Linked DNA regions of Homo sapiens. The protein of the gene in region 1 interacts with the protein of each later gene in a pairwise test. Each region holds a gene or a part of one and is shown in the gene's direction. Other genes may lie near its edges.

The links.
Region 2: the proteins of FAM135B (region 1) and WFS1 interact in binary tests that used the Homo sapiens proteins (3 or more experiments, as listed by UniProt).
Region 3: the proteins of FAM135B (region 1) and DNALI1 interact in binary tests that used the Homo sapiens proteins (3 or more experiments, as listed by UniProt).
Region 4: the proteins of FAM135B (region 1) and NDUFS1 interact in binary tests that used the Homo sapiens proteins (3 or more experiments, as listed by UniProt).

What each region holds. Positions count from the first base shown.
Region 1 is NC_000008.11:138,487,090-138,494,603, reverse strand, and holds part of FAM135B (protein FAM135B), read left to right. Parts: intron 1-7,514.
Region 2 is NC_000004.12:6,293,850-6,300,849, forward strand, and holds part of WFS1 (wolframin), read left to right. Parts: intron 1-1,191; coding exon 1,192-1,340; intron 1,341-6,807; coding exon 6,808-7,000. UniProt on the Homo sapiens protein: Participates in the regulation of cellular Ca(2+) homeostasis, at least partly, by modulating the filling state of the endoplasmic reticulum Ca(2+) store.
Region 3 is NC_000001.11:37,559,426-37,566,939, forward strand, and holds the end of DNALI1 (axonemal dynein light intermediate polypeptide 1), read left to right. Parts: coding exon 1-71; intron 72-2,131; coding exon 2,132-2,310; intron 2,311-2,655; coding exon 2,656-2,820; intron 2,821-5,600; coding exon 5,601-5,636; 3' UTR 5,637-7,429; downstream 7,430-7,514. Other genes in the region: GNL2 (nucleolar GTP-binding protein 2), read right to left, coding at 7,430-7,514. UniProt on the Homo sapiens protein: Involved in sperm flagellum assembly.
Region 4 is NC_000002.12:206,142,216-206,149,729, reverse strand, and holds part of NDUFS1 (NADH-ubiquinone oxidoreductase 75 kDa subunit, mitochondrial isoform 1 precursor), read left to right. Parts: intron 1-633; coding exon 634-710; intron 711-1,895; coding exon 1,896-1,977; intron 1,978-2,068; coding exon 2,069-2,199; intron 2,200-2,641; coding exon 2,642-2,827; intron 2,828-4,703; coding exon 4,704-4,838; intron 4,839-5,597; coding exon 5,598-5,712; intron 5,713-6,898; coding exon 6,899-7,044; intron 7,045-7,514.

The sequences.
Region 1 (7,514 bases):
CTTTTATGCCCCTGATTTTGCTCATGGTGGTGTCCCTGCCTAGAATAACAATTTCTCACTTCTTTCTTCCTTTAACAACCCAACTCAAATGCCCCTTCCTATAGGAAGCTTTCCCATATTCTCTCATGTGCTCCCACAACACTCTGGACCTCCTTTGTGATGGACTGTGCTGTGTCATCGCTTGCACACATACCTGTCCTTTCTGTTGATTTGATGCTTCCCAATGATAGGTGCCTCTCCCTATCTGACTTTGGTTGTGGCTGCAGCACCTGGTGCAGCCATGGCCATGATGAATGGTTGTTGAATGAGTGAATGAGCCTTACTTCTAACATGACCACCTGTGCAGACGTAGGCTGCAGAAAGGCCATTCCTGGCTGCTTTTGCCATCTCGGTCTGTGTGGCAAGCCTGGAGGATGCTCCATGGCTTGTTGTGCATTATTTAGGGTCAACCCACTGAGGCAAAGTGAAGGAGAACAGAAGCACATATTTTGCTTTAAAATGCTCATTTTTTTTCAAGTGGGCACTTTAGGATAACTGAAATCTGGTGTTGAATGGCCTTCATGTAACATTTGCTGAAAACATCTGATGGAATATTTTAAACTTGAAATATCTTTTTCTCGCTTCAATTTCTTTCCTTGATTTCAGCTCCAGTATAGTAAAAAAGCACAAGCATTGGATTAAGATAGCCTAGATTTAATCTCAGTTTTCAGGGTACCTGGAACTAGTGCACTTGATTGTCTTGTGCCTCAGTTTCCTCATTCATAAAGTGTGGATGTGAATACCCATCTCACAGGGATGTCGAGTTTTGGAGCGAATTAATAGCTGTGCCATAAAAGTAGTTCATTAACTGTAAAATATTAATACTCTAAGTAAATTTGTTCTTTTCCTTAATTTTCGTCCTAGAAAATGAGCAAAATCCTTGTCTAATTTCACAGCATCACATGGGCTTCAAATGCTGGCTCCTTCACTTACTAGCTCTGTGTGACCTTCAGTAAATCATTTTGCTCCCCCAGCCATCTGCCTTATCTGCATAGCATTGTAATGATAGCCACCTTTCAAGATAGATAGGCAAATGCACAGAAAGAAAAATGCCATGCCAGGCACTCAATACGTAATATCTGTAATTTGCAAATGATAGATGTAATTGCCAATAATAGAGGGTTCCAGAATTTTTTGAAATGCCCCAAATGAGTCTCCTCCCTGTATTTCACCTACAGTTCTACAAGAGAAGAAGAACTAAGAAGATGGTCATGGTCCCAACCACCAAGAACCTCCTTTGGTTACACATGGGAGACACCAGGAGGGAGCAGAATGACCTAAAGATTTAGATTCAGATTCAAGTCTGATCTTACCTGAGAGAGCTGGCAGAGATTCACGGACATCGCTAATATCTGCTGAGCTATCCAGACACTGGGTGCTCAGAAACGTCAAATGTTTCTGCTCAAACATGAATAATTTCTAGGTGGCTGCACACCCATCTCAGGAGTGACTCGTGAGGGAGATTTTAGCATCACAAAGGAAAGTGGCACTGTGAGCCTGGGATCTGTGGCCCTCCCTCCACCTCCGGTGTGGATGGAGTGGTGCTGTGATGTGCCTGGTACAGGGCATTTGCATAAGTAGCCTGCCCTGCGTCACTCATCATGCCAGACTCTGAGAATCAACTGTAGACAACACAAGGTCCTTGCCTTTCAAGAGCTTAATATGTAGTTGGGGGATCAGGCATGGAAATCGGCAAGAACAAACCAGGCAATGCCGGGGGTCTGCGGGAACAAAGAGGAGCCTCCGACATATTTCCTAGGTGGTGGCTGTCAAGGATGCCTTCTTAAAGGAGAGAGAGTCTAAGCTGAGTCTGAAGGAATCTCCACATGCAGACCTGAGGGAAGGGCAATCAGAAAGGGAGAGCAACATGCAGAGACTTGGAGACAAGAAGTAGCAAGGAAGAGAAAGGAACCGCAGGGCTGGAACAAGAGGCCAAGGGGTGAGGTGGTGTCCGTTGAGGCTTGGGAGATGGTAGGGTTACACGTTTGAGAGTTTTGCAAGCCAGTCTTTTCCTCTAACAGAAGGCCATAGGAAGTCACAGAAAGGTCTAGACCTGGGCAGGATGCTCTCCCCAGCTGTGATAGAGGCCAGGTTAGCGAGATCCAACAAAGATTTTATGGCCTCTTAGGAGGCTCTGCAGAGATGCTTGACTTCAGGTAATGAGAGGTGGGAAAAAGAGAAGGACAGAGAAGAAATAGTGTGAGAAGGAATAGTAGAGAGGAACAGAAGGAAGGTATCAGAGAAATGAACAGATTGCTTCCTATCTCACAAAAATATCAGTGAGACATTCTAGGGACCTTTGACCATTGATAGGTCAAGAGGAAGGAGGGGTCATGGTTGATACTCAGGCTTTCTTTCCATCCTCCCACCGTGAGAGAAGAAGGCAAGGACTAATAAACCAGGCTCTGAATTGATGTCCCTGCCTCTATTCTGCTTCCCAGTGTCTACTGTGCACAAGGCAGCCAGAGAGATCTTTATAAAACTAAAATCAGATTAAACTCTTTGCTCAAAGCCCTTTTGTGGTTTTCTAACTCAGAGTAAAATCTGAAGCATTTCCCATGACCTGCAACCTACACGACATTCAGCCCCTGTTCCAACCCGGCTCACCACCTTGTGACCTGGTCTCCTCCACAGCCACTCACCTCTACCCACCCTGGCCTCCTGGCTGATCTTCAGCAGCACATGCTACTCCCTCCTCCTGGGACATTCTTCTCCCTGGTAATCACTGGGTGTCCCTACTTTATTCTGGCTGCAACTCAAATGTCACCTTAGCATATCATTAGCCCACCCTTACCACCTACTTCTACAATGACAGTCTCTTATTTTGATGTTTCTTTCTTTATAGTACTTATCAATATATTACGTAGTTCACTGTTGAACTCCCACTGGTAGAACAAATCCTCTCATATAATATGCACTCAGTAAATGTTTGCTGAATGAATGAATGAATGAATGAATGAGTGAACGTAGGATTGCCTCCGTGCCAGAGTAGATGCTGGTCCCAGCATTGACTGGGAATTAGAAAATGAGGAAACGATTGAGGGAGAAACAATGACATGTTCCAAATTGTGGGTTAGAATTAAGTGACTATTTCCTACATAGCTGCAATATTCCAGGCATTACTAGGCAATTGGATAGCAAGACTACCAAGATCAAATTTCTTATGAAACATTTCTTGGGACACGGAAAACTATAGATTTATTGTTAGAGGGGTCTCCAGCTAGACACTGGAGGGTGTGGGCCTGGTTGAGTTCTGCTGTTCACTTTCTTTGTCACTTTAGACATATTCTTTCCACCCCATTCTTTAAAGTCTTGCCCTATGTTTTAATTGATGATATAGCTTTTGTTGTTGGGCTTTGTGATATAGGAAATATTTTTCTTTTCTTGTCTTTCTTTCTTTCTTTCTTTTTTTTTTTTTTTTTGAGAGAGAGTTTCGCTCTTGTTGCCTAGGCTGGGAGTGCAATGGCACGATCTCGGCTCACTGCAACCTCCACTTCCTGGGTTGAAGCGATTCTCCTGCCTCAGCCTCCCAAGTATCCGGGATTACAGGCATGTGCCACCATGCCCAGCTAATTTTGATTTTTAGTAGAGACAGAGTTTCACCACGTTGGTCAGGCTGGTCTCGAACTCTTGACCTCAAGTGATCCACCCGCCTCGGCCCCCCAAATTTCTGGGATTACAGGCATGATCCACCGCGCCTGGCCTATTTTTCTTTCTCTTCTAGAGTTTTTTCTTTAATTTCATTATATTTAGCAGACGTTGAAGTGACGTCATATTCTCTAAGTCATATTCTCAGTTACTTAGAATAACTGCAACTTACAGTCTTTAGTTTTCAGTTATTATGGGGAAGATGGGCAAGGAGAGTGAAGAGAAGAGGTGAGTGTCATCCCAGGTAGCTGGAGGGAGGTAGTGGTGGGATGAACTCTTTGCATATGGATAATCTAGAGGCAGAGTGGTGTAGGCTTCCTTTGTGGGAGTGTCTTCCTGGTGCAGCTGTTTCGACAGGAAGTTCCTGTGGTGGAAGTTCTCTTGCTAGGATGGCAGATAAGGCCCTTATCCACCCGTCTGTCTGTCTGAGCATGGCTCACTCTGTTCTCCCAACCAGGCATGCCCTCTTCCATGTCTCCAGGGCTAGGCTCACTTTCCTGATGGGCCCTGCAGGTCCCTGTGTTCCTCTCCAACACTCAGTGCAACCCTGTGGCTTGACCTTCGCAGTCTGTAGCTTTCTTGTCTAGATCTTGAGTCCCTCCTAGACTCTGTACTTATGAGATTAAGAACTAGGTTTTATCTTTTATGTGGAGTCTGGTATCTGAAAGAAAATTGGATCAAAACTTGAATACAGGTACTCTAGGGTTAACTCTGATATGAATTAGCTGTGTTCTTTAAGCAGGAACTTAACCTCCCTGGACTTCTTTTCCCAATTGTGAAATGAAGGCAGTCAACAAAAATTTTATTTCCAAAGTGCCTATTATGCCCCATCCTCTGTTATAGAAGCTTGAAGGGGGCCAAGATAAAGAAGATAATGTTTATATGCTTAAGAAGTTTATAACTTCTAAAAAAGACAAACAAGTAGAGAAGCAGTTATAATATACAGTGGCAAAGCTATGATAGAGATAAGACCTGAGAGCAGAGAAGGACACCTAACCCCACTTGGGAATGCCACGAGGGGCTTCCTGGAGGAAGAGGTATCGAATATGAGACATGAATGGAAAGTAGGAGTTACATAGATAAACGTGGGATAAGGAGTCGGGGGAGCTGTTTCACATGGAAGAAAGCCAGGGTGGAGAGCAGGGGTTGAGAGAGTATTGCAGGCAGTAGGATGTGTGGGCTCAGAGAGAGTGTGGGTGAAGAACTTGAGACAGGGGTGGGAAGCTAAAAGGCTGGAGAGGTGAGTAGAGGCTGGGTGTGCAGGCCCTTGGACACTTTGTGAATGGATTTATTCTTTATCTGGAAGCTAATGGGAGGGGTGGAAAGATCTTAAACTGGGAGATGACAGATACAAACATGCATTTTGGAATGGTCCATTCTGGTTGCAATATAAAGAATGCATTGGAGAAAAGTAAATTATACAGGAGGCATGGAGACTGGGTGGGAGTCTATTTCAGGAAATTTAGGGTACCTAGACATAAAGATGGCCCAAACCTAGGTTAAGGTAATAGAGACGGAGACAGGAGGACCAACTTGAGAAATATTCAGTCAGTAGAATCTTGACATACAGGGTCCAAGAGTGAAGAATACCTCTGCTCCAGGATGATGCTCCATTTTCTGACCTAGTCTGATGGATTGGCTTTGCTGCTGTTCACTGGCCTGGGGACACAGGGGAAAGAACAGGTTTTCAGGAGGAAATGATGAGTTCTGTTTTGAATGCGTGGAGTTTCAGGTCTCTGATGACATCCACATACATTTTAGGCAATATCAATCAAACTCAGAAAAGAGTTTGGCGGAATACACAGACTTAGGGAATCCTCAGCACGTAGATGATAACTGAGAACCTGGGAGTAGCAGTGATTGGCTAGGAGAAGTATAGAGGTAGAGGAAGCAAAGGTGTTCCTTTAGACCCACAAGGGCTACACTACTGCTCATTCAAAAAATCAAACAAACGCCGGGCGTGATGGCTCACGCCTGTAATCCCAGTACTTTGGGAGGCTGAGGCGGGCGGATCACCAGGTCAGGACCTCGAGACCATACTGGCCAACATGGTGAAACCCCATCTCTACAAAAAATACGAAAATTAGCTGGGTGTGGTGGTGCGTGCCTGTAGTCCCAGCTACTTGGGAAGCTGAGGCAGGAAAATTGCTTGAACCTGGGAGGCGAAGGTTGCAGTGAGCCGAGATTGCACCACTGCACTCCAGCCTGGCGACAGAGTGAGACTCCCTCTCACAAACAACAAACAAAAATCAAACAAAAACACTCACACACAAAAAAACAAACAAAAACGCACACTATCTGGCTTCCTCTGGCCTTAGGGATTTTTCCTTTTGTGTCTACACTGCTGGTTGGGACAGATCATCCCCTGATGTTCCTGTGGCTCACTCCCTTTCCTCACCTAAGTCCCCTCTTTGTAGTGATGTCTCTGGACAACCTAGTTAAATAACCCTGTGTAGTCTCTAGCCACCAAGCTTGCTTTTTTTTTTTTCCTCAAAAGAATTCATTATCATATCATTATCTGAAATAGTAGAGATGCATCGGTTTATTTGTTTTCTATTATCTCCTCTGCAAGATGTGACCTCCCCGGTGCAAGGACTTTGCTGTACTCATAGCTGCACAAAACCCTTAGAATAGTTCCTGACACCCATTTAGCGTGCAATAAATGTTTGTCAAAAAATAGAAGGATACATGCAGAAATCATCAATAATAAAATAATACTTTTACGTTTAAAAAGTAATAACTGCAGCCCTATTTAAGCACCATTTACAGTTCCTGGGTCAGAAGGTGGCCTTCCAGTTCAGGGGCACCTTGTAGGCTGGTTGCTTGCTGCTGGACACCTGCCCCCTAGGGATGACCTCCCCTGTCCATCTCCTCAGATGACACTGACAGGCGTCTTTTTTTTTTGTTTTTTTTGAGAGAGAGTCTCACTCTGTCTCCAAGGCTGGAGTGCAGTGGTGCGATCTCAGCTCACTGCAACCTCTGCCTCCCGGGTTCAAGCGATTCTCCTGCCTCGGCCTCCCCAGTAGCTGGGATTCCAGGTGCCCACCACCACGCCTGGCTAATTTTTTTGTATTTTTAGTAGATAAGGGATTTCCCCTTGTTGGCGAGGCTGGTCTTGAACTCCTGACCTCAAGTGATCCTCCCACCTTGGCCTCCCAAAGTGCTGGGATTATGGACATGAGCCCCTGTGCCTGGCTGACAAGTGACAAGTGTGTTTTAAACTTCAGTTGAAACAGAAAAGAAGTACCACCCCTGCCCAGCCCCTGCCCCGCCCCCACCCCCACACACACCTAGGGCTTGGATGAGAGTAGTTTGAGGAATGCAGTGGACAGCTCCCACCCACCATGCTGCTGTGAATGCACGGGTGGGTGCTGGGCCATTTACTGGGAAACAGCTCTGCTTGAGACATTAAGCATCAGATGTAAGTACAGCACCCCACTGTTCTGCTTAATCCAGAGATAAAAGCAATGTTTTCTTAGACAATTGTTCTTAACCTTAATTAAGTCCCGGATCACTTTGAGCATCTGATAAAATCTGTAGCCACTCTTCTCAGAAAAAAAAAAAGTAGTCCCATGGGGGCTGGCGGGAAGGTATGGATCTCCTAAGTCCTCCGTGACCAGCTAAGAATGCCTTTTCTGCAAGTGGGATGGGGCTGCTTTGGAGCCTGCAGATGTCCCTGCATGGACTTCACAAAGTGATTGTATTCTCTGGTGAAAACTAAAACAGCAGGTCTTCTGAGTATTAGTGAGACAGGGTCATGTAAATGAAAATCGCAACCTTTAGAGTGAGGCAGACTTTGGTTTGAATCCAAGTTCTGATTAGAGTAA
Region 2 (7,000 bases), on another chromosome or scaffold:
GCAAGCCCCCAGCCCGCCCAGGCTGCATCCAGCCCGTGCTCCTTCCACATCTCCTGTACCTGGCTGTCCCATGGTCACCTCACAGCTCAGTCTACAGTGAGCTACTGAGGCCTGTGCTACCTGCCACTTGTGTGGGCCCCCCCAAGGCTGCCTCATCTCTTTGCTGCAGCTACACCTGGGTGCTGCCCCGACTCCTCTCCTCTTGCACACACAGCTGATCCATTAGGAGGTCTGTCAGCGCCCACTATCACGGCTGCCATCTTGGATGCAGCCTGCCTCCTCCCTAGGGTTTCTGCAGCACCCTGGCTTGTCTCCCTCTGCCCTGCCCCAGCATGGTCCTTTCTTTCCCATCCTTCCCCTGGAGGCCCTCCTGGTCACCATCTCACCACGGCAACTGGGGTCCTTCAGGGGCCTCATTCCCTCCTAGGGGATCATGTTGGATAGAGGGGTCAGTGGGCACGTAGCTCTCGCGGATCACGTTGGATGGAGGGATCAGTGGGCACGTAGCAGGCTCTTGGTGGAAGATGTTGGATGGAGGGGTAAGTCGGCCCATGGCAGGACGCATGTTGAATGGACGGGTTAGCAGGCATGTAGTAGGCCCATGGCAGACACTTGTTGGATGGAGGTGTCAGCAGGCACATAGTAGGTGTGTGGCAGATCATGTTGGATGGAGCGGTTTAGCAGGTGCACAGTAGGCCCTGGGTGGATCACGTTGAATGGAGGGGTTGGGGGCGCAGATCATGTTCGATGGAGCGGTTGGCAGGGTACTGCCCTACAGGGCGGCTTGTCACCCGTGCTGTGAGAAGCCCCACGCTGGCTGAAGAGGAGGGTGTCAGCATGCACTGGAGGTGCATGTTGTAAGGCTTGGCAGGTGAACTGGGTGAAAGGTGTGGGTGAGTGGCCCCAGGCATAAGGAGCTAGGCAGAGAGGGACACTTGGGGTGGGGGACAGCACACCCAGGGGCCGGGGGCCAGGAGTGGAGGCTGGCACTTGGCAAACCTGCCCCCTTCCTCCTCACCCAGCCTGGTCCTCAACCCTCAGGCCGCCCAGGGAAGGGTTTCCTCCACCTGAACCCACTCAGCTCCTTTCTTAGCTTGGCCCCACGCCACCGTCCCCAGCCCATTGCTCTGTGTGAGGGTGGCAGTGGGGCTGCAGTGTGGGGCGCCCATGCTGTTTTCTCTCATGCTTCAGCCAAGAACTACATCGCGCTGGATGACTTTGTGGAGATCACTAAGAAGTACGCCAAGGGCGTCATCCCCAGCAGCCTGTTCCTGCAGGACGACGAAGATGATGACGAGCTGGCGGGGAAGAGCCCTGAGGACCTGCCACTGCGTCTGAAGGTGAGTGACCAAGACCCCGGTCAGGCCGGAGCCTGCCTCCCAAGGACTCGCGCACCTCAGGCAGGGCACCTTCCAGGAAGCTGCAGGTGGGGAGGTTCGCGCCTAACAAAGAGTGTCTTACAGCCGTGCCGCTGGTACCTTTGGGTCATCATCTATCGTCATAAGGATGTGTCCTCGGGAGAGAGGCCTTTCTTTTCTGCGCCGTCAGGCTCAGAAACCAGGGGCGGTGTTGGGCAGGAGTGCTAGGATGGCAAGCAAGGGGCCCCTGGGTCTTTCTGTGCAGTGTAGGGGGCAGTGGGGCGGGCTGGACGCAGACTTTCATCTAGACTTCATCACTTAGCAGATTTCTCCATGTATGGTCCAGAGTGGAGGCCAGTGCCTTGAAGATGCCTTCCCCGAAAACAAAGTGCCGTGTCCGTCAGGCCAGGGAGGACGTGCAGAGGCGCCTACTGCCCCTGGATCTGCAAGGGCTCAGGGAGCGAGGCCAGTGTGGGAGCGTGGTGGGTGACACTTGTGCAGGGTGCCATTGGGCACACCTGGAGGACATGAGCAGCTTTGGCGGCAGGAGGAAAGCGGGGAGCGGGGAGCGGGAAGCCCAGCAGTGCGGGCCCTACTCCTGGCCTGACAGCTTGTTTTCTTGGCCATGTGGCCCTATGGCCTCTCACAGAGTTGCTCACAGTTCAGCTCGCATGGTTGAATTAGATGTGTGCCTGTCTCACTCTGCAGAGAACACCAGGATTTCCAGAAGCTTGGCCTCCTGACCCAGGATCCCCAAGCTGAGGCCAGCACAGGGGGCCCCAGCAGATGATTGTCACAGAGGCTGCGGGCAGTATCATGCAGGCACCCTGGGGTTCTGTCTTCTGAACTGACTGAGAACCTGGAGGAACTGCCATCATTGTATTCAGATGGGCGCGTGAGTCAGGGCCAGGACCAGGAGATGGTTGGGCCACCAACTGTCAGGCAGGCAGCAGGCTGAAAGGTCACCGTCCTCGAGCCAGGGAGAAGGTCAGAGTAGGCCCGCCCTCCGGTGGGGGGGAAGAGCAGGAACCCAGGTGCTGCAGGAGCAGCTTCAGCCCAAAGAGCAGCAGGCACAGCAGCCCTGCTGCAGGGACTCGGAGCCAGACAGGTCTGAGTGTGAGCCCCCCGAGTGCCCAGAGCTGCGAGTCCTTTAGGGTGGCAGGTGGAAGGCTCTGCTCCTCCCACTTGGGACAGGCTGTATGTCCAGGGTATGACACCGACCGGTCTGCAGAGGTTCTGAGACATGGGCCAGGATGGCCAAGAACTTGAACCAAGGGAGCACATGGTTTTTACTGATGGTCTGCTCAGAGCTGGCCCTAGGCAAGCATATTCACAGATTGGGTGCCATCATCTCCTTACTAATGGGAGATGAGGAAGCTGGGGTGCTGGCATGGTTTTGGCAAAGACACTCCCGAAATGAGAGTGAGGGTCACAGGTGAACGGGTTAACTTGGAGAAGACCCTTGGGCCAGGCGGCCATGGCCCAGGTGTCCCAGTTTATGCCATCTGGTGTAAGTACTATTATAATAATGCCTCCTTGCATATGCGTCCTGTTCGGAAAATTATGTCACCTAGTTATGGATGGTGAGTCTAGTGTTGTGTAGCATCTGAAAATCCTATTTATTTATGTTACTTAATGACAGGGTCTCGTTCTGTTGCACAGGCTGGAGTGCAGTGGCACGGTCACAGCTCACTGCAGCCTCAACGTGCCAAACTCAAGTGATCCTCCCACCTCAGCCTCCCAAATAGCTGGACTACAGGCATGTGCCACCACACCCAGCTGATTTTTTTGAAAACATTTTGTAGCGATGGGGGTCTCACTATTGTTATCTACGCTGGTCTCAAACTCCTGGGTCAAGCGAGCCTCCCACTTTGGCCTCCCACACTGCTGGGATTCAGGCGTGAGACACTGTATCCAGCCTGAAAGTCCTTTTTAGAAGGGAGAGATTTAAGCTGTTTTGACAAGAAGTAAACAAGACTCTGTTTCCCTTTAGTTTTGGATGCTGTCAGAGCACTTCGATTCCTTTGCAGTTTGTCTTCTTAGAAGTCTCTTGTGAGGGAGGCAATGAATCGTCACAAGCGTCTCCCAGGGCTGAGAGCTGTCCCACCTTTTAGTAGCCTTTTGTAGAACAAGGAGAGGTCTTCACTCAAAGTGAAAATGACAGACACCTCTTTGTGAGCCACCCTTACTCCCACAAAGAATGTTCCAGACTCCACACAGTTCTCTTCTGGAGCCTGGAGGTGCAAGCTGTCATCGTAGATAGAATCCTCTGAAAACAAACTTAATATCTTAAAATCGTAACATTTTTAACATTACATAATTGGAAGATCCGACACGGGAACATTTTTGCCCACAGGTTTGAGCAGAATCTCGTCTCGGCTCCCTTCCCCAGCCTGCCTTCTTCACGGGTCCGCTGGGCCATCGGTGTGGTGACGCTGCTTCCTGGTTTCTCGTGGCAGCAGAAGGGCCGATCACCACAGGCCCAGACAGAGAGCTCTGCAGTGTTCTATTCATAGAGGCAGACTCCTCATAGTTTTTAAGTTTCGTTCTTTTTCCATCTCAGGAGTTGAATTTGTTTGGACCTTCTTTGCAGAAAAGGAGACTGAACTTTTTAATCCCATGTCAGAGGAAGGTCTTGGGTGTACATTGCAGGGAGCAGAAATTGGGGCTTTAAAAAGGGGATCGTTCCCTGGTCATCGAGTTCAGGTGGGGGACCAGCCCCTCCACACTGTCCAAGCAGAGGCTAGACGCCATCCAACGTAATGTTCTAGAATATTCCTTGTCTTTTAAAGGCCCTCTCAACCAGGTGGTTGTGTGTGTTCTAGGCAAAAGAATGTGCATGGCTTTGAGTAAGACAGGATTTCAGATTTATTTTTACCAAGGCCACCCCCTTGCTACCGTGGCGGTCGTGCGTGAAACTGGTGGTGAGCAGTGGCGGGCCAGGCCACCTTTAGTTGTCCTGCTGTTCGCAAGGCCCCCATACGGGGATTAACTGAGCAGCCTGCCGGCTGACGCACATGTTGACTCGTGTAGCTGTTGATTTTAGCCAGCTGGCCTGGCGTCATACTACAGGGGCTTGCCCCAAACAAACCCTGGAGTAGGTTGGTTTTCATAAATGCCCTCTGGCTCTCTGGCAAGCGTTGGAAATGCCCTCAAACCCTGTAGTGCCTGGTCTTCCCTGGCCATCTCCTGGCAGTGTGAGCGCCTCTCTGCTCATGTAGAAGGTTGTTGACCCCAGAGAGAGCTAGGGGAGCTGTTAGCTGCTTTAATCGTTTATTTGCTTGTTATAAAACAGAGATTAAGTGGACTGTCACAAATATACATGAAGCAGCAGAGCTGTTCCCCCACGTGTAGACGTGCATGCACACACTCCTAAACACTTCCGTTTCTTCCATGAGCCTGTCCTTCTCATCTGTGGAAGGCTCAGTCTGTGTAGACATGCATGCACACACTCATAACACTTCCGTTTCCTCCATGAGCCTGCCCCTCTCCTCTCATCTGTGGAAGACTCAGTCTTCTGGTTGTTTCCAGGTGTCCTGGTCCTCCAGAGCTGATAGCCAGGCTGTTGGCAGGTGAGGGCCACATTCTGGTGTTGTCACCTAGTTGCCATTCACCTGGGATCCCTCCTTGGCCTTCTGGTGGGCCTGGTGGAGAGAACCTGCCCCAGGGGATTTGTGGGGTCTGGTGCTTCCCCGAGGCCCGGAGCTGATGGGGGGCTCCAGCCTGGATGTGTCATGTAGCCCCTCAGTGGGCCCTGGACATGCAGCCAGGCTTCCCTACCCCCATGTGGGGCCGCCCCCTAGGCGTCCACTTCCTGGTGTTGGTCCAGGCCCCTGGCACTTCTGAAGATGCACAGAACCTGCTTTGTATGCCACGCCATGCTGTGTGAGCACTGGCACCATGGCCACTTTGTCCCCCATCCCCTCCAGTCCCTCTGCCTGGCTGCCCTGTGTTCTGGCAGGGCTCAGGGCCTCTGAGTTCTGCACAGACCAGGAAGGCATGAGGGCTGGCCCTGGGTGGCAGCGCTGCTTCACCCCATCCTGAGGCTGCTCCCAGCATGCCTCCCTCAGCCCTCTGCTCCTCTTGGCTGTGGTGAAGGCCAAGAGCTCTTTCTGACCTTAGCGCTGCATGCAGAGCAGGGGAGCAGGACCCACAGGTCGGGGGAAGGCAGCCTTTGGCCTTGACTATGGGGAGGTAGGGGTGCGCTGGTGTGTATGTGTAGGTGCACACGTGTAGGGGTGGGTGTGCATGTGTGAGGGTGCACGTGTGGGGGTGGGTGTGCACGTGTGTGTAGGGGTGGGTTGCGTGTGTGTGAATGTGTATAGGGGTGGGTTGTGTGAATGTGTGTGTAGGGGTGGGTTGCGTGTGTGTGAATGTGTGTGTAGGGGTGGGTTTGAATGCAGGTAGGTTGCGTGTGTGTGTAGGGGTGGGTTGCGTGTGTGTGAATGTGTGTGTAGGGGTGGGTTGTTTGCGGGTAGGTTGCGTGTGTGTGAATGTGTGTGTAGGGGTGGGTTGTGTGAATGCGGGTAGGTTGCGTGTGTGTGTGTAGGGGTGGGTTGCGTGTGTGTGAATGTGTGTGTAGGGGTGGGTTGTTTGAATGCGGGTAGGTTGCGTGTGTGTGAATGTGTATAGGGGTGGGTTGTGTGAATGCGTGTGTGTAGGGGTGGGCTGCATGTGTGTGTGTAGGGGTGGGTTGTGTGTGTGTGTATGGGGTGGGTTTGTGTGAATGCGTGTGTGTAGGGGTGGGTTGCGTGTGTGTGTGTGCACGTGTGTGTACGGGCAGAAGGTGGCCTGGCAGCTGCTTCTCAGGGTCTCCGGCCATAGGGAGGGCAGCTCACCCGGCAGCCCCGTGCAGCTGAACGGTATTTTTGCTGGGAGAGTGGTGCTGGGCCCTCTGCCTGTGTCTGCACTGAACTCCCTTTCCCTAATGCTTGCTCTGCCACCCCTCCGGGGACTGCCTGCGGCTTCTCCTCCTCGTAAGGATCGCCATTTCCCTTCATGGAGGCTCAGGGAGGTGACATCCTTGCTGTAGTGCAGAGCTGGGTCACAAAACCAGCTCCCAGACAGGCATCTCAGGGCTCCGTCATCTCTTCATGTGGGTGACCCTGAGGGGAGGGAAGTGGGGAGCCCGTGGGTCCCTCCAGTGCTGGAGGTCTTGCAGGGAGAGAAGCACACATGCATCTAGTCACGCTGGTAGAAGGTGGGGAGCCAGGCACGGGGCAGAGGGGGGCTCCAGGCCCAGAAGAGGGAGGGCTCACAGGGACCGCGAGCATGGGGAGGGCCACCTGGAGAAGGGGGGAGGGAGGACCACTAGGATGGGGCTGGTGATGGGAAAACGCAAGGGTGCGGGTTCCTTTTGCCCAGAGGCAGGGTGGTCAGAGGGAGGCGTGAGATGGGAGCAGTGGGGGTCCTGTCCCAGCCTCGTTCCCACGTACCATCTTTCCCCCAGGTGGTCAAGTACCCCCTGCACGCCATCATGGAGATCAAGGAGTACCTGATTGACATGGCCTCCAGGGCAGGCATGCACTGGCTGTCCACCATCATCCCCACGCACCACATCAACGCGCTCATCTTCTTCTTCATCGTCAGCAACCTCACCATCGACTTCTTCGCCTTCTTCATCCCGCTGGTCATCTTCTACC
Region 3 (7,514 bases), on another chromosome or scaffold:
GCTGCAGCAGCGGCAGGCCAGGGAAACAGGCATCTGCCCTGTCCGCAGGGAACTCTACTCACAGTGTTTTGGTGAGTGAGCCAGGTGAGGGGTGGGCACTACACACCCTACTGCTCCCTTCCCTTCACCTTCAGCACAGATCCAAGCCTGAGCACCTTGGAGCTGGAGCCCATCTCATGCTGGAATCCCCTCTTCTCCCCCTGCCTGACCCACCCAGCAACAGCTAACTGCCCCCTTCCCCTTCCCAGCTGAAGGGGGCCAGCCCCTCCACACCTGTGGGTATTTCTCCTCAGGCAGGAGGAGAGACTAAGAAAAGAAATAAGACACAGACAAAGTATAGAGAAAGAAAGGTGGGCCCAGGGGACCGGCACTCAGCATACGGAGGACCCGCACCGGCACTGGTCTCTGAGTTTCCTCAGTATTTATTGATTACTATTTTCACTATCTCAGCAAGAGGAATGTGGCAGGAGAGCAGGGTGATAGTGGGGAGAAGATCAGCAAGAAAACACGTGAGCAAAGGAATCTGTGTCACGAATAAGTTCAAGGGAAGGTACTATGCCTGGATGTGCACGTAGGCCGGATTTATGCTTCTCTCTACCCAGACATCTCAGTGGAGTAAAGAGTAACAGAGCAGCATTGCTGCCAACATGTCTCGCCTCCCGCCACAGGGCGTTTTTTCTCCTATCTCAGAACAAACGTACAATCAGGTTTTATACTGAGACATTCAGTTCCCAGGGGCAGGCAGAAGACAGAGGCCTTTCTCTTATCTCAACGGCAAGGGGCCTTCCTCTTTTACTAATCCTCCTCAGCACAGACCCTTCACGGGTGTCAGGCTGAGGGACGGTCAGGTCTTTCCCATCCCACCAGGCCATATTTCAGGCTATCACGTGGGGAGAAACCTTGGACAATACCTGGCTTTCCAGGGCAGAGATCCCTGCGGCTTTCTGCAGTGCATTGTGCCCCTGGTTTATCGAGAATGGAGAATGGCGATGACTTTTACCAAGCATGCTGCCTGTAAACATTTTGTTAACAAGGCACATCCTGCACAGCCGTAGATCCCTTAAACCTTGATTCCATACATCACATGTTTCTGTGAGCTCAAGGTTGGGGCAAAGTTACAGATTAACGGCATCTTAGGGCAAAGCAATTGTTCAGGGTACAGGTCAAAATGGAGTTTCTTGTGTCTTTCTTTTCAACGTAGACACAGTAACAGTCTGATCTCTCCTTCTTTTCCCTACACCAGCCCCGCCTCTTCTACAAGTCCTCCAGCTGCCAACCACTATATTCTTGGCAACTTGAGTTCCTCACCCCTTAGCAGATGTTTGGAGTAAAACGATAACTTCCATCTGTTTTTTCAAAGATTTTCTATAATAAGCATGTGCTAATTTTTTAGTCAGAAAGATTAATGTTCAGTATTTACATCCATCCATCCATCCATCAATATTTGGCCCTTGGTCCAGAAAAATATTGTGATTTGTTGTTAACCCACAGACACGAGAGATTTAAGATGCACCTCCTTGAGTGCTGGTGTCAAATGGCTGTCTCCCAGCCCAGTCTCATTGGCTCTTATGGACGCCGATCTGCAAACCACCTCCAAACCCTCAGGCAGCTGCAGGGTCTAGCAGGCTTCCCTATCCGTGTGTTATTATGGTTTGCCCTCCAGGTCAGCATTTATGGGGAGATAGATGGGCAAGCTCTAGACCCTGCCATTTCCCTCAAACCAGTGCAGCCAAGGGGGCACACAGGATGTCCCAGCTGCTTTAAAACAGCTGCCATCTTTAAACAGAAAAAGTCAGGTTTTTTCGAGTAGTAACCAGTTTTTACCTAAGGCAGGAAGGGAGGGGACCCAGTGCTGTAAACAAACCAGAGCCTCTTGTCTCCTTTGCTCTGGCCAACCCAGTCTTGCTGACTGTGCTACTCACAAGTGCCAAGTTCAGAGGAGTGACTGCATGGCAAGGCTCTTTGGGCCACTGAAGGCACCCTCCCTGAGGCCCTTCTCTGAGGCCTTGCACTTTGTCTCCAAGCGAGAACACCCTAATGTCCTTCCCAAGAGGAAGGGTGTTTGCAGTAGACATACTGCAAGCCCCCTCCCCACGCCCTGTCTGATCTCATGGTGTGTGTGCATTGGAAGATGAGTTGATCCGGGAGGTCACCATCAACTGTGCGGAGAGGGGGCTGCTGCTGCTGCGAGTCCGGGACGAGATCCGCATGACCATCGCTGCCTACCAGACCCTGTACGAGAGCAGCGTGGCGTTTGGCATGAGGAAGGCACTGCAGGCTGAGCAGGGGAAGTCAGACATGGAGAGGAAAGTGAGTGGGGTTTACCGTGACCCTTGGTCCCATCTCTTCTGTAAACCTCAGGGCCACATGCTTATCATTCCAGCACTACATTCTGACCTCCTAAGGTGCTCTGCTGACAGTCACGACACCTGGACTTGCATCACCTCAGTGAGGGACCCCTGGTTGAGTATGATGGCCAGCCTGGTGGTCTTGGCAGAGTTGTTTCCGCTGTAGACGCTCCATGCCAGGCACTGACCTCCCACTGGGTGGCAGTATATACCCTGGCAATGTCATGTCCCATGTCCCTTCCACCCAGGCTCACACCATTCCATTCACCTGGCGACATCCCAGGATGACTGGGCATTCTCTCCTCAGATCGCAGAATTGGAGACGGAAAAGAGAGACCTGGAGAGGCAAGTGAACGAGCAGAAGGCAAAATGTGAAGCCACTGAGAAGCGGGAGAGCGAGAGGCGGCAGGTGGAGGAGAAGAAGCACAATGAGGAGATTCAGTTCCTGAAGCGAACAAATCAGCAGCTGAAGGTAATCAACGCGCAGGGTGGGGTGGAGGTGCCCCCTGCCCTGCGACCCAGCCCCACAGGCCAGGCATTCGGTTCCTTTTCCATGGCTTTTAAATGTTTGTCCACATGCACTGCCAAAGGATAAAGGAAGCTGACTTTGGTGGTGGGAGAAGGGGAGGGCTCCAGAGGGGGTCTCTACTCTCAACTCCAAATCTCTGAGGCGCCTCAGCCTGGCTCTCCAGTGGAGGATTCTTCTCCCTGGAAAAAAGTTGCCCATCCTCAAGGAAGAGGTGGATATGGCAAAAAGTGGAACTCCATTCCCCTGGAAGCTGGTATGTTGGAGCCTTTCTGGAGGGGGCTGGGCTCCAGGTGGCTTGCGTGGTAGTGCCATCCCATGGCTGTCTCCTCTGAGGCCCTGTTTCAGGGCATAACCAGGGAAGAAGTCAAAGGGCAGCAGGGCCCTTTGAGAGGAAGAACCATTTCAAATCAGAAACCTTCCCCAGAAATGTGGTCGGGGAACCCAGGCACAGGTGCTCTTCCTCGAAGTCCGATGCCAGCAGTGGTCTTTTATCCAGCTGAGGTGATAGGAGGGAGGGGGCTGGTGGACAAAGCTGGGCAGGAGGCCATGCTACAGGCACTGCAACTCCCAGCTGTTTGGTCCAAAGGTCTCAAAAGGTAGGCCCTAGATCAACATCGTCCTCACCTGGCAAAGCAAGACAAATTATTGGGCCCACCCCAGATCTACCAAATCAGAAAATTCGGGGTTGGGGTCCAGCAATGTGCTTTAACAAGGTCTCAGGTGATTCTAATGTTTGCAGAAGTTTGAGCATCACTGTTCTGGAAAGATGGCCTACTGACATTTAGTGGCCTTCTCCCATGGCCCTGGCCAAAGGACCCTGGATGGATCTCCCTCTCCTCCCTAGGCTCAGATAGAAACCTTACAATCTTGACATTGCAGGCTTGTTTGGTCTACACACCAGCAGGACTGGCCATTTGCGATAAAGAAGGCTTTCTGTTAACCACTACTGGAACTTTTCTTGTTGCACAAAGAAAAGCAAGAAACTTTCACAGCCAGAGATGAATCTGTTTCCTTAGCAGCCTCTGAGGCTGCTTTCCTTAACTGCCATATTCCTTTTTCATAAGCCTGAGTTCCTCAGTTCTTCCTGGATTAGCAACAAGAGCAAACCAAATACCTTAGCATGTTTCTAACATTTAAAAGCAATCTTGTAATCTCCAGGGTGAAAGATTCTTTAGAAGTTGGCATTTTTAAATTTTTTTTCTTTTGAGACGGAGTTTTGCTCTTGTTGCCCAGGCTGGAGTGCAATGGCACCATCTCAACTCATTGCAACCTCTACCTCCCGGGTTGAAGTGATTCTCTTGCCTCAGCCTCCTGAGTAGCTGGGATTACAGGCATGTGCCAGCACGCCCGGCAAATTTCTGTATTTTGAATAGAGATGGGGTTTCACCATGTTGGCCAGGCTGGTCATGAACTCCTGACCTCACATGATCTGCCCACCTTGGCCTCCCAAAGTGCTGGAATTACAGGCTTGTAATACAGGAAGTGAGCTATTTTTATTGGCTCAAAACTGCATTGCAAATAAAGCAGCTTTGCTGTCCCCAGGATAGACCTACCTAAAGATCTGTCCAGTATTATTTTATTGGCTACCAGAGGAACATAGTAAATAACTCCCAAGTGTCTTAAGCTTTACATAAAGAGGGACAGCTCTCGGCTGGGTGTGGTAGCTCACACCTGTAATCCCAGCACTTTGGGAGGCCGAGGCAGGTGGATCACATGAGGTCAGGAGTTTGAGACCAGCCTGGCCAACGTGGTGAAACCCATTTCTACTAAAAATACAAAAAGTAGCTGGGCGTGGTGATGTGCATCTGTAATCCAAGCTACTCAGGAGGCTGAGGCAGGAGAATCACTTGAACCCGGGAGGTAGAGGTTGCAGTGAACCGATATCACACCATCACACTCCAGCCTGGGTGACAAGAGCAAAACTCCATTCCCCACCCCCACCCCCCAACAAAGAGGGACAGCTCTGTATTCACTGGCAGCATTTCTCTAATTGTGTGCCAAGTTGTCTCAGTGGCTGAAAATTCACTGTTTCCCAAACCTCTGGTCCCAGCAGAACTCCCAGGATCCTAAACCAGAGAGCCAATATTTTTTTTTTTTTGAGACGGAGTCTCCCTCTGTCACCCAGGCTGGAGTGCAGTGGCACGATCTTGGCTCACTGCAAGCCCCGCCTCCCAGGTTCATGCTATTCTCCTGCCTCAGCCTCTGGAGTAGCTGGGACTACAGACGCCTGCCACCACGCCCAACTAATTTTTGTATTTTTAGTAGAGACGGGGTTTCACCGTGTTATCCAGGATGGTCTGGATCTCCTGACCTCACGATCCGCCCGCCTCAGCCTCCCAAAGTGCTGGGATTACAGGAATGAGCCACTGCGCCCGGCCAGAGAGCCAAATGTTTAACTTAGCAGACATATTCTGGCCTGAAACCTGAGCCATGAAAAGCCCTTACAACAATGCATTCAATATCCTTTTCAATGCTTTATATCATACCCGGAGCCATTATTGTGTTGAAACCAGGACAGCTCTGGCTTCTCCTCATATACTAAAGACTGTATGCCAAGCTAGAAACTAGCTAATCTAGAAAATATGGATTTGGGGATCAAGGGGAAAAAGAACCCTTGGAGTGACAGCATGTGGATTCTTCTTCCCAGAGATTTGATCACCTCTCAGCTATTTGTATCAGGCTGCAAGTTTCAAGTATTAATGGAGCTTGTTTTTGTTTTTCAGGCCCAACTGGAAGGCATTATTGCACCAAAGAAGTGATAATTTCCACATGATTAATTTCCAACAAGACACTTGGGAGTTATTTACTGTGTTCCTCTGGCAGCCAATAAAATCATCATAAGCCCTTTGTAATAAAAAGCTAGTTTCCTGAGTGAACAAGCCATAACCTCCCCTAAACACCACCTAGGTATTTGTTAGAAGTCACACTATTACTCCAATGTCATCAGACACCTAAGGTCTGCCAGCCAGGCTCCTGGCTGGGCAATGGAAGATGGTGTGGCCCTGTTAGTCTCCGTGTGTGGCTTACTAGCCAGCCTTGGGAACTGCCAACTCAAATTCTAAGAAAGCCACTGCTTTCTCATCATCACTCTATACCAATACTTATTTCTGGCCAAATGAATCTGCTTCTCTGCCCCTCAAACTTTTAGTTCACAATTCATCTTCTACCTTAACTTGGGCTTCTTGGGCCTCTGGCCTTCCTTACTTAATGTCTTCTTTTCCCTACTCTAATGCATTTCTAACTCACTTTGGAGCTTTGGTTTTCTAATGTATTATCCCCACTTGCCAGTCAACTGGACCCCTTCCTCCTCGGTTTCAGACTGCCTACATTAGGAAACAATGGCAGTCAAACCCATGGCTTTGGAGAAAGTAAATGTTTGCCAGAAAGGAATACTAGTCACAGTGGCCTTTGTGAGTTGTCTGCAACTCAGCTCTTCCCCCAGCACAGATCTGTTCCCCTTATCCTGCAGAAAATCAAGCCCTGACTCTGCACTCCCCGAAGTAGTGATGTTAATTAACAACTGAAGAGGTAACTAAATCTCACATGCAGGTCTAATGACTAATAATTGGAGTACGGCTGCTAGACAACTGCATTTTAGTATTTCTCTTCCATTCTCCTGGTTTTGTAGACCCAGAAGATTGAATGAGTGACATAAATCTTTAGTTCGGGGCAAGCCAGGGTGGGCTAGGGTGGTAAGCTGGAGGACTTCATCCTTCAGTTAGGCTGCACAAGTAACATTACCTAAAAGGCACTAACATGCTCAGGTTCCCCAGAAAGAGGCGTAAGAAGGGCCTCTCCTTAGCAGAGCTTCCACCTGCCATCCGTCTTGGGTTCAGTGAGCTTCAAGGCTCACAATGGAAGCACTGTCATTTCCCCAGAAAAGCTGTGTTCCCTATGCTGAACACACCATACACATTCTCATCTGGAATCTAAGGAGCAGCTTTTACCCTGATCCAGTATCCTGAGGAATTTTAAGCCTCCACTCAAATGACCTGCCTGTGTTGTCATTTCCATGGGAAAGAACTCTTTCCACGAGATCTGCTAGTTCCAGGCCTCTAAGACAGGAACGTATGTGCCATAAGTGGGTCTACTTCACAGACTCAATGAGGCAGAAATTATTGTAGTTTTCTCCTATTTCTTCTGCACCCAACTTTCTCCTTGTATTTCAAAGGCCAGGCCATGTACACTAACGTCCTTGAAATTTGCAGTTCTGTATGCTTCTATTCCAAATCATTCATTACCAATAAAAACGAAATACCACCCTTTCCATTTTATAGACCTCATCCCCTATTTCTGTCAGACAGTTATATGACAGGGTGACTGTGGAACCTCTTAGTTCATCCAAAGTCTACCTGAAGTGCTAGACTTTCAGACTCTTATCACTGAAATCCTTAAGGTTGAGGAGGCTTTATTTCCCTAGCACTGGTGAAGGGCTTCAACTGTCAAACCTCAGAACAAATGCATTAGGGCCTTAGAAATGTCAATGGGGCAGGAAGAAAACACAATTTCTAACTGCCTGTTTTTGTATAATTTAATAAAAACCTTTTAAACATTACTGCTTTTGTCTGAATTTTTTGCGTTTGTGTTTCTGTCCCTCTGAGTCATTGGTCTTCTTTTTGTTCCTGTTCCTATTTTTC
Region 4 (7,514 bases), on another chromosome or scaffold:
GTGGAGAACCTAGCCCTCTTTACTTCTATCTATAAATTTAATTCTTTTGTACAATTGATTCTCTTCATTTCAAAACTGGAAACACATAGATAGAAGTGCTTTACAAACACATGTCATATAATTGTAACATATCTAGAAATTAAAGGTGATTTATAGTTGTCAGTATTTCCAAATGGCTGTATAATATATAACCAGGATGTAGAGTTGCCAAGTAGCACATTAAAAGTGCTGACGCCCTGCCATTTTTAGTAGAGAAAAGGGTTGCAGGGAAGAAGTTCACTTTCAGTAGTTTAATTTCATTTTGGTGTATGCAATTTTTTTATTCAATAGTGCCTGCTAATCAAAGCAGTTATTTGGTGTTCTGTTTCAGAGCAGAATAAAAAATTGCATTGACTATTAGAATAAACCTAAAAACCAGGATGTTTTATTTCTGAGATAAATGCAAAGTACTAGATCATCGTATTATGAATATGAAAACTTAACAAAATTCAGTTTTAAAAAATACCCTATTCTTTGCCTGTTATCAAATGTATAATTTAATGTTTTTATATAATTTAACATTTTTATATATTGAGTTGCTTGTAATCACAAATAAATACAAATACACATTTTTTTTTTTCATTGAAATCCCAGGTTGTAGCTGCTTGTGCCATGCCAGTAATGAAGGGTTGGAATATCCTAACAAACTCAGAAAAATCCAAAAAAGCCAGGTACTTTATTGTTATTCAATGTAGTACCCTTTCATAAAGCAGAAAATTGCACATTTTGGTATTTAGACCTTCCCATAGATTAAGAATTTAATATCAAACTCGGAAGAAGTTGGTGTGCTCAGCTTCTAGGAGCAATAGAAGTGAGTACTACATAGTAGAGAAGGTGAAGTCAGGAGTTTATGGTATTGAGCTTTAGGATCAGCATTAAAAATCCTTCTTTAGTAACTTGCTCAACTTGTGAAGAAGGGTGAATCTGGACTTACTAAGCTACTACTATACTATACTGGGATTGATTGTGTTTGTTTTTATTTTGAATTAATGTGAATATTTTCTGAGGACCATTCAGCAACTTTTGATCATTCGGTATTGTTAAAAGTTACAATTTTCTTTATTTTTTGAAACGAGGTCTCACTATGTTGTCCAGGCTGGGCTTGAACTCCTGGCCTCAGGTGATCATCCTGCCTCAGCCTCCCTCCCATAGTTCTGGGATTACAGACGTGAGCCACCAAACCTGACCAAAAATCATAATTTTCTATGTTCTCTAATGATACTTTATTCTAGGCTCCTCTAAGCATTTTCCAGATTGTGTGTTTAATACTACCAGAATGATACTCGGGAGGATCACTTGAGCCCAGGAGCTCGAGTCCAGCCTGGGCAACATAGCAAGACCCCGTCTCTTAAAAAAAATATTACCACAATGATAGATAATTGGCATTTCTGATATTAAATGTAAAATTACTATTAATTGTATAACAAATATACATCTATGAAGGTTGTTTAAATGGCCTATATGTGGGCCTGGCACAGTGGCTCACGCCTGTAATTCTAGCACTTTGGGACGCCAGGGCGGGAGGATCACTTGAGGTCAGGAGTTCGAGACCAGCCTGACCAACATGATGAAACCCTGCCTCTACTAAAAATACAAAAATTAGCCAGGTGTGGTGGTGGGCATCTGTAATCCTAGATACTCGGGAGGCTGAGGCAAGAGAATCGCTTGAACCTGAGAGGTGGAGGCAGGAGGCTGCAGTGAGCCAAGATTGTGCCACTGCACTGCAGCCTGAGCAACAGAGCGAGACACCATCTCAAAAAAAAAAAATAAAGTCTATAGGTCATTTTGAGTGCCAGCAGTTAATGTCAGTGTGTGTGTATTTGAGAGTCATTTTATATGTTACAATTTTCATACAGGGAAGGTGTGATGGAGTTCTTATTAGCAAATCACCCATTGGACTGTCCTATTTGTGACCAGGGAGGTGAATGTGATCTGCAGGTATGTAGTAGAATTCTGTCAATCTTTTTGGTTGTCTCAGATTTTAATTTTATTAGCAGCATGAGATTGACTCTTTCATAATCTACTTAAGGACCAGTCCATGATGTTTGGAAATGATAGGAGCCGATTTTTAGAGGGGAAGCGTGCTGTGGAAGACAAGAACATTGGGCCATTGGTAAAGACCATCATGACAAGATGTATACAGTGTACTCGCTGCATCAGGTAACTTTTTTTCCTTTTTTTTCTATTATAGAATATAATTGTATACTTAATAGTCACAATTTGATGAATAATAACATTGGAAAGAATGGCTACTTTTTTTGGGTGGGAGAAGAGGGATGCTGTTTCTGATATATGAATAAAATAAGTTCACTTTCATTTAGTACCAACTTCAGGTGGATTTAAAAATTAAAATCTATAAGCATTTGCTTTCACTCATAACTTGGTGAGTTGTACACATATGATTTGTACAAGTTTCTGCCTGTGTGTTACACCTCAATTAAATGCAAACATTTCATTATTTTTTATTCTAGGACTGTGCTCACCTTTAAAAATATACTCATTTCTTTTTAGTGTTTGGAAAATCATCTCTTTGTGATCATGAATAAGAAAGGAAATAATTTTGCTGGACTTGACCATTGATGACACATTTTTTATCTTGTAGGTTTGCAAGTGAGATTGCAGGAGTAGATGATTTGGGAACAACAGGCAGAGGAAATGATATGCAAGTTGGCACATACATTGAAAAGATGTTCATGTCTGAACTGTCTGGGAATATCATTGATATCTGCCCTGTAGGTGCCCTAACCTCTAAGCCCTATGCCTTTACTGCCCGGCCTTGGGAAACAAGGTATCTTTTATTTTATGACAATTTGTTTTTTTGTCCTTAATTCATTACTATTCAAAAAAATATTAAGGTTCATTTTCTTCCTGGGTTTCAGTTGTTTTGGTCTGTTGACTTTGTTTGTTTATGTAAAACCCTTTAAATAGAAGGTAAGTAGTTAGAATGGATTGAACCTGTGCAAATTAACTGTAGTTTTCTTGGAAATTAATTCTAAAGTACTCAACCACAAAATTATTTTTTTCATGTGTTCTTCCAAAGAGTTTAATAGTGTTGACATTTTAAATGTATAGTCTCCCATGTTGTTGTTTATTAAGTTTTCAACTATGAGGAATGTCATTTAGCCAGTTTCTGCTAATAGACATTTAGCTTGTATATTTCTTTATGATTACAAATCTGTAAAAAATATTGCTGTTTACACATTTCTGTGTATATCTCTCATTCTCCTGATTAAACCAAGAAATGGAGTAGATAGATGCAAGAGGTGTGATTATTTTTAAGGTTCTTAAAACATAACAAATTATCATCCAATTTTAAACTTTATACTTTTCAACTTGGGATTTGGCTTTTTGTTTCTGTGTAATTTCTGTGTCCTTACTGAGAATCTCTACTTGCTGATTCGTGGTTGTCATACATCCCCTTCAATTTTTAAATATGATTTTCTTTGGTTCTTTCAACATATTTTAATATTCTTGGTTTTATTTTTAAGTGAGGCTTCTTAGGAGTTCCCCTGTGTCTGCATAGTTTAGTAGTCAGGTATAATTGTACTTCAAACACCGTGACCTAATAAGAGTTATGTTCTTTGCCAATGGATCTGTTTGTGGATGGAGGAGCATATTCAAAGTTGAGGCTGTTTTCAAGTTTGCCCAGCTATTACTTTGCACTGGGCCCTTTGGGTCTCAGAGTTATCCAGGAGTTTATGAATAGGTTGAGCTTTCTCTGGTTTCACCTGCACATGTAGCAGCCTCTGTTAGGAATGCTTGCCGCAATTACCACTACAAACTTAGGCTGGTAAAATCTTGGCTATCCTCAGCTACGATGACCTCCAAAGTATCACCTCCACAAACAAGTTTGCCTCGTGCTCCAAGTTAAGTGAGTTGTCTCCATCTGTACCAAAGAAGTTCTCATCTTCACAGCCTGCCCCGGCCTCGAAGAAATTCCATTTTGAGGGGGTGGAGAGGAGCATAGGAGGAGCACTGAGCCCAGCCACCAGTTTTTCAGTGCATAAAAGCTTCCCACATTGTATGTGTTTAGATTTCTAAACTGCTGAAATGGTGGGTTTTGTCATTTTTGGCCAGCTTTACTTTTGCTTTTCAGTGGGAAGGTTTTTTGAGCTCCTTAATCTCCCATAGACAGAAATCCTGCCCCTCTTGTTGAATCGTCCCAGATTTGGCTAGTTGGAGCCCCTTCAAACTAGCTTCTGTGTCAGATAATAGTTTTAAAGCCTTCCTTACTGTGCCAGGAATTTATGTGTTCAAATGTGGGTGTGCCGGGAGCAGTGGCTCACACCTATAATCCCAGCTTTTAGGAGGCCAAGGTGGGAGGATTGCTTGAGACCAGTAGTTCAAGACCAGCCTGGTCAGCATAATGAGACACCGGCTCTACAAAAAATTTTTAAAATGTGGTGAGAGGATAGTTTGAGCCCAGGAGTTCTAGGCTGCAGTGAATTATGATCATGCCACTGTAGCCTGGGCAACAGAGTGAGACCCCAGGGCAAAAAAAAAGGTGGGGGGTTCTTTTATTTAATTGCAGTTCCTCTAAGCTTCATTTTTTAAAGTAATTCAGAAAGGGAATTAATTGTAAAAAAAATTTTTTGGTAAACCAGGTAACAGAAACTTTCTTTATTCCCAAAAGCACCATAGTAAACACCGTATGTGTTTCTCAGAAAGACAGAATCCATTGATGTAATGGATGCGGTTGGAAGTAATATTGTGGTTAGCACAAGAACTGGAGAAGTGATGAGGATTTTGCCACGTATGCATGAGGACATCAATGAAGAGTGGATCTCTGATAAAACCAGGTATATGCTATATTGTTTTCCTTAACTTTTACAGTTTATTTAAAGGAAATTTTATAATAATTTTGAAGAATTATCTTTTATATTTGCAAATTAGTTACTGAATATAGACTACTGGAATCTGAGTTGCTTATATAATGTGATAATACTGACTTTAATAGTCCTAGGTCAATCCCTGGATATTGTATTTACTTTGAGAAAGATATTTTTTCCTCCCACATGGAGAAATTCAAGTAGATTGATACATTCTCAACTTATTTCAGTTTGTTCATTAGAGAAAAGAAGCTAGGCTGGGCGCAGTGACTCACACCTGTAATCCCAGCACTTTGGAAGGCCGAGGTGGGATGATTGCTTGAAAAAGAAGCTGAATAGAAGAGTTTGCACAATATAATTTTGATAAAATATTTAGAGATACTCATGCTTTGTAAATAAAAATGATTTGACTTTTTTAGCTGTCAGATTTTTTTGTGTTGTAATTTTAAGATTGTTCAGTTAGCTGAAAGTATAAGAAATCAAACTTTTTTTTGTATGATTTAAGGGAAGAAATCAAACTTTCAGATGGTATTTTAGTTTTAGGTGAAGTTCATAAAATCTATTAGTTCATCTCTAAAAATATCTGGAATAATTACTTGTATCTAGGTGTTTAGATATTTGACACTTTAACCAGTACTGTATTTAAATAACATTTCTTGTTGATTTAACTTGAAAATTATAGTTACTTCTTTAGCAAGATTCCACAATGGTGTAATTTCTGTTTTCTAGATTTGCCTATGATGGGCTAAAACGTCAAAGACTTACCGAGCCAATGGTCAGAAATGAAAAAGGGCTTTTAACCTATACTTCTTGGGAGGATGCGCTCTCTCGCGTAGCTGGAATGGTAAAATTTGAAATAAATAGTGTTAAATAGTGTTTGTGATTATCAAGAAACATCTTTGCCATGAAGGGGGGGATGTATATTTCTTCCCTTTTTTACTTTTACCAAGATTATGATTTAATCTCCTTCCATTTTACAGACATCTACTGAGGACATATGCTAGATATTATGCTATTAAGGGATATAAAGACCAGAGACACATCATTCCTGCATCCTACAATCTTGTAGTAGAGAAAGTTGCACAATTCAGCAATTATTATATGCAGCTATGAGTAATTATATAAGGAGTAATATGAGTGAGAGCACGTAGGAGGAATGCCTAACTAGGACAGGCATATCAAGATGCCTTCCTTGGAGGTTGCAGTGAGCCGAGATCGCACCACTGCACTCCAGTCTGGGTGACACAGCGAGACTCCATCTCAAAAAAAAAAAAAGCTGCCTTCCTACAGAAGGTGATTCTTAAAGAAGAATCTGAGAATGAATATAAGCTTGCCAGAGTACAAGTGGAGGGAATAGTTTTCTTGTTAGAGAAAGACAACATAAAGCACTAGAGGGAAAGGCAGATACTTCAGAGGAGGTCGCATTTAAGGTAACTATAGTTCCACTTCATTCTCCAGACCTCATTTTGAAGTGCCTTTGTTCCTAAATATAAAACAGCTTCCTTCTAAGTTGATGTTATTAGCTGTGGCCCCACATAACACCTCTGCAGCTTTTCACTTTTAGATTAATTAATAATTGTTGTACAACTTTTTTTGTGTTTTTGAGATGGAGTTTTGCTGTTGTCGCCCAGGCTGGAGTGCGGTGGCGCGATCTCGATCTCGGGTCACTGCAGCCTCTGCCTCCTTGGTTCAAGCAGTTCTCCTGCCTCATCCTCCCGAGCAGCTGGGGATACAGGCGTATGCCACCATGCCCAGCTGATTTTTGTATTATTAGTAGAGATGGGATTTCACCATGTTGGCTAGGCTGGTCTTAAAGTCCTGACTGCAGGTGATCCGCCCACTTCTGCCTCCCAAAGTACTGGGATTACAGGCATGAGCCAGTGTGCCTGGGCATGTTGTAAAACTTTTAATCAGAAGTCTGTTAACTTTTTTTGTACTTGAAAACAAGTACTGTTTTATTTTCTGAACATTTCATTGTGGTCTTTGCTGCGTGTAGGTTTCTTGGTGATGCCCTTTTCATCTGTTTCTAGTTGCAGAGTTTTCAAGGCAAAGATGTGGCAGCAATTGCAGGTGGCTTGGTGGATGCTGAAGCCCTGGTAGCTCTCAAAGATTTGCTTAATAGAGTGGACTCTGACACCTTATGCACTGAAGAGGTCTTCCCCACTGCAGGAGCTGGGTGAGAAATATGAAGCTAGGATCTAGGCTTTCCTTTCTTTTTTTAGTTACAAGTTATGTATAAAATGTGACAACCTGGATTCTCCAACATATCCCCCAGTTTATTTTCATATATAGACCAAGATCAAACCAGAAGTTGTAGGAAATAGAGGAATCCACTTATCACTAAGTATCTCAGGCACAGTGGCTCACGCCTGTAATCCCAGCACTCTGGGAGGCCAAGGCAGGCAGATCGCCTAAGTGCAGGAGTTTGAGACCAGCCTGGCCAACATGGCGAAACCCCGTCTCTACTAAAAATACAAAAAAATTAGCCAGACGTGGTGGTGTGCGCCTGTAATTCCAGCTACTTGGGAGGCTGAGGCAGGAGAATTGCTTGAACCTGGGAGGTGGAGGTTGCAGTGAGCCAGGATCACGCCACTGCATTCCAGCGTGGGAGACAGAGTGAGACTCTATCTGAGAAAAAAAATAAGT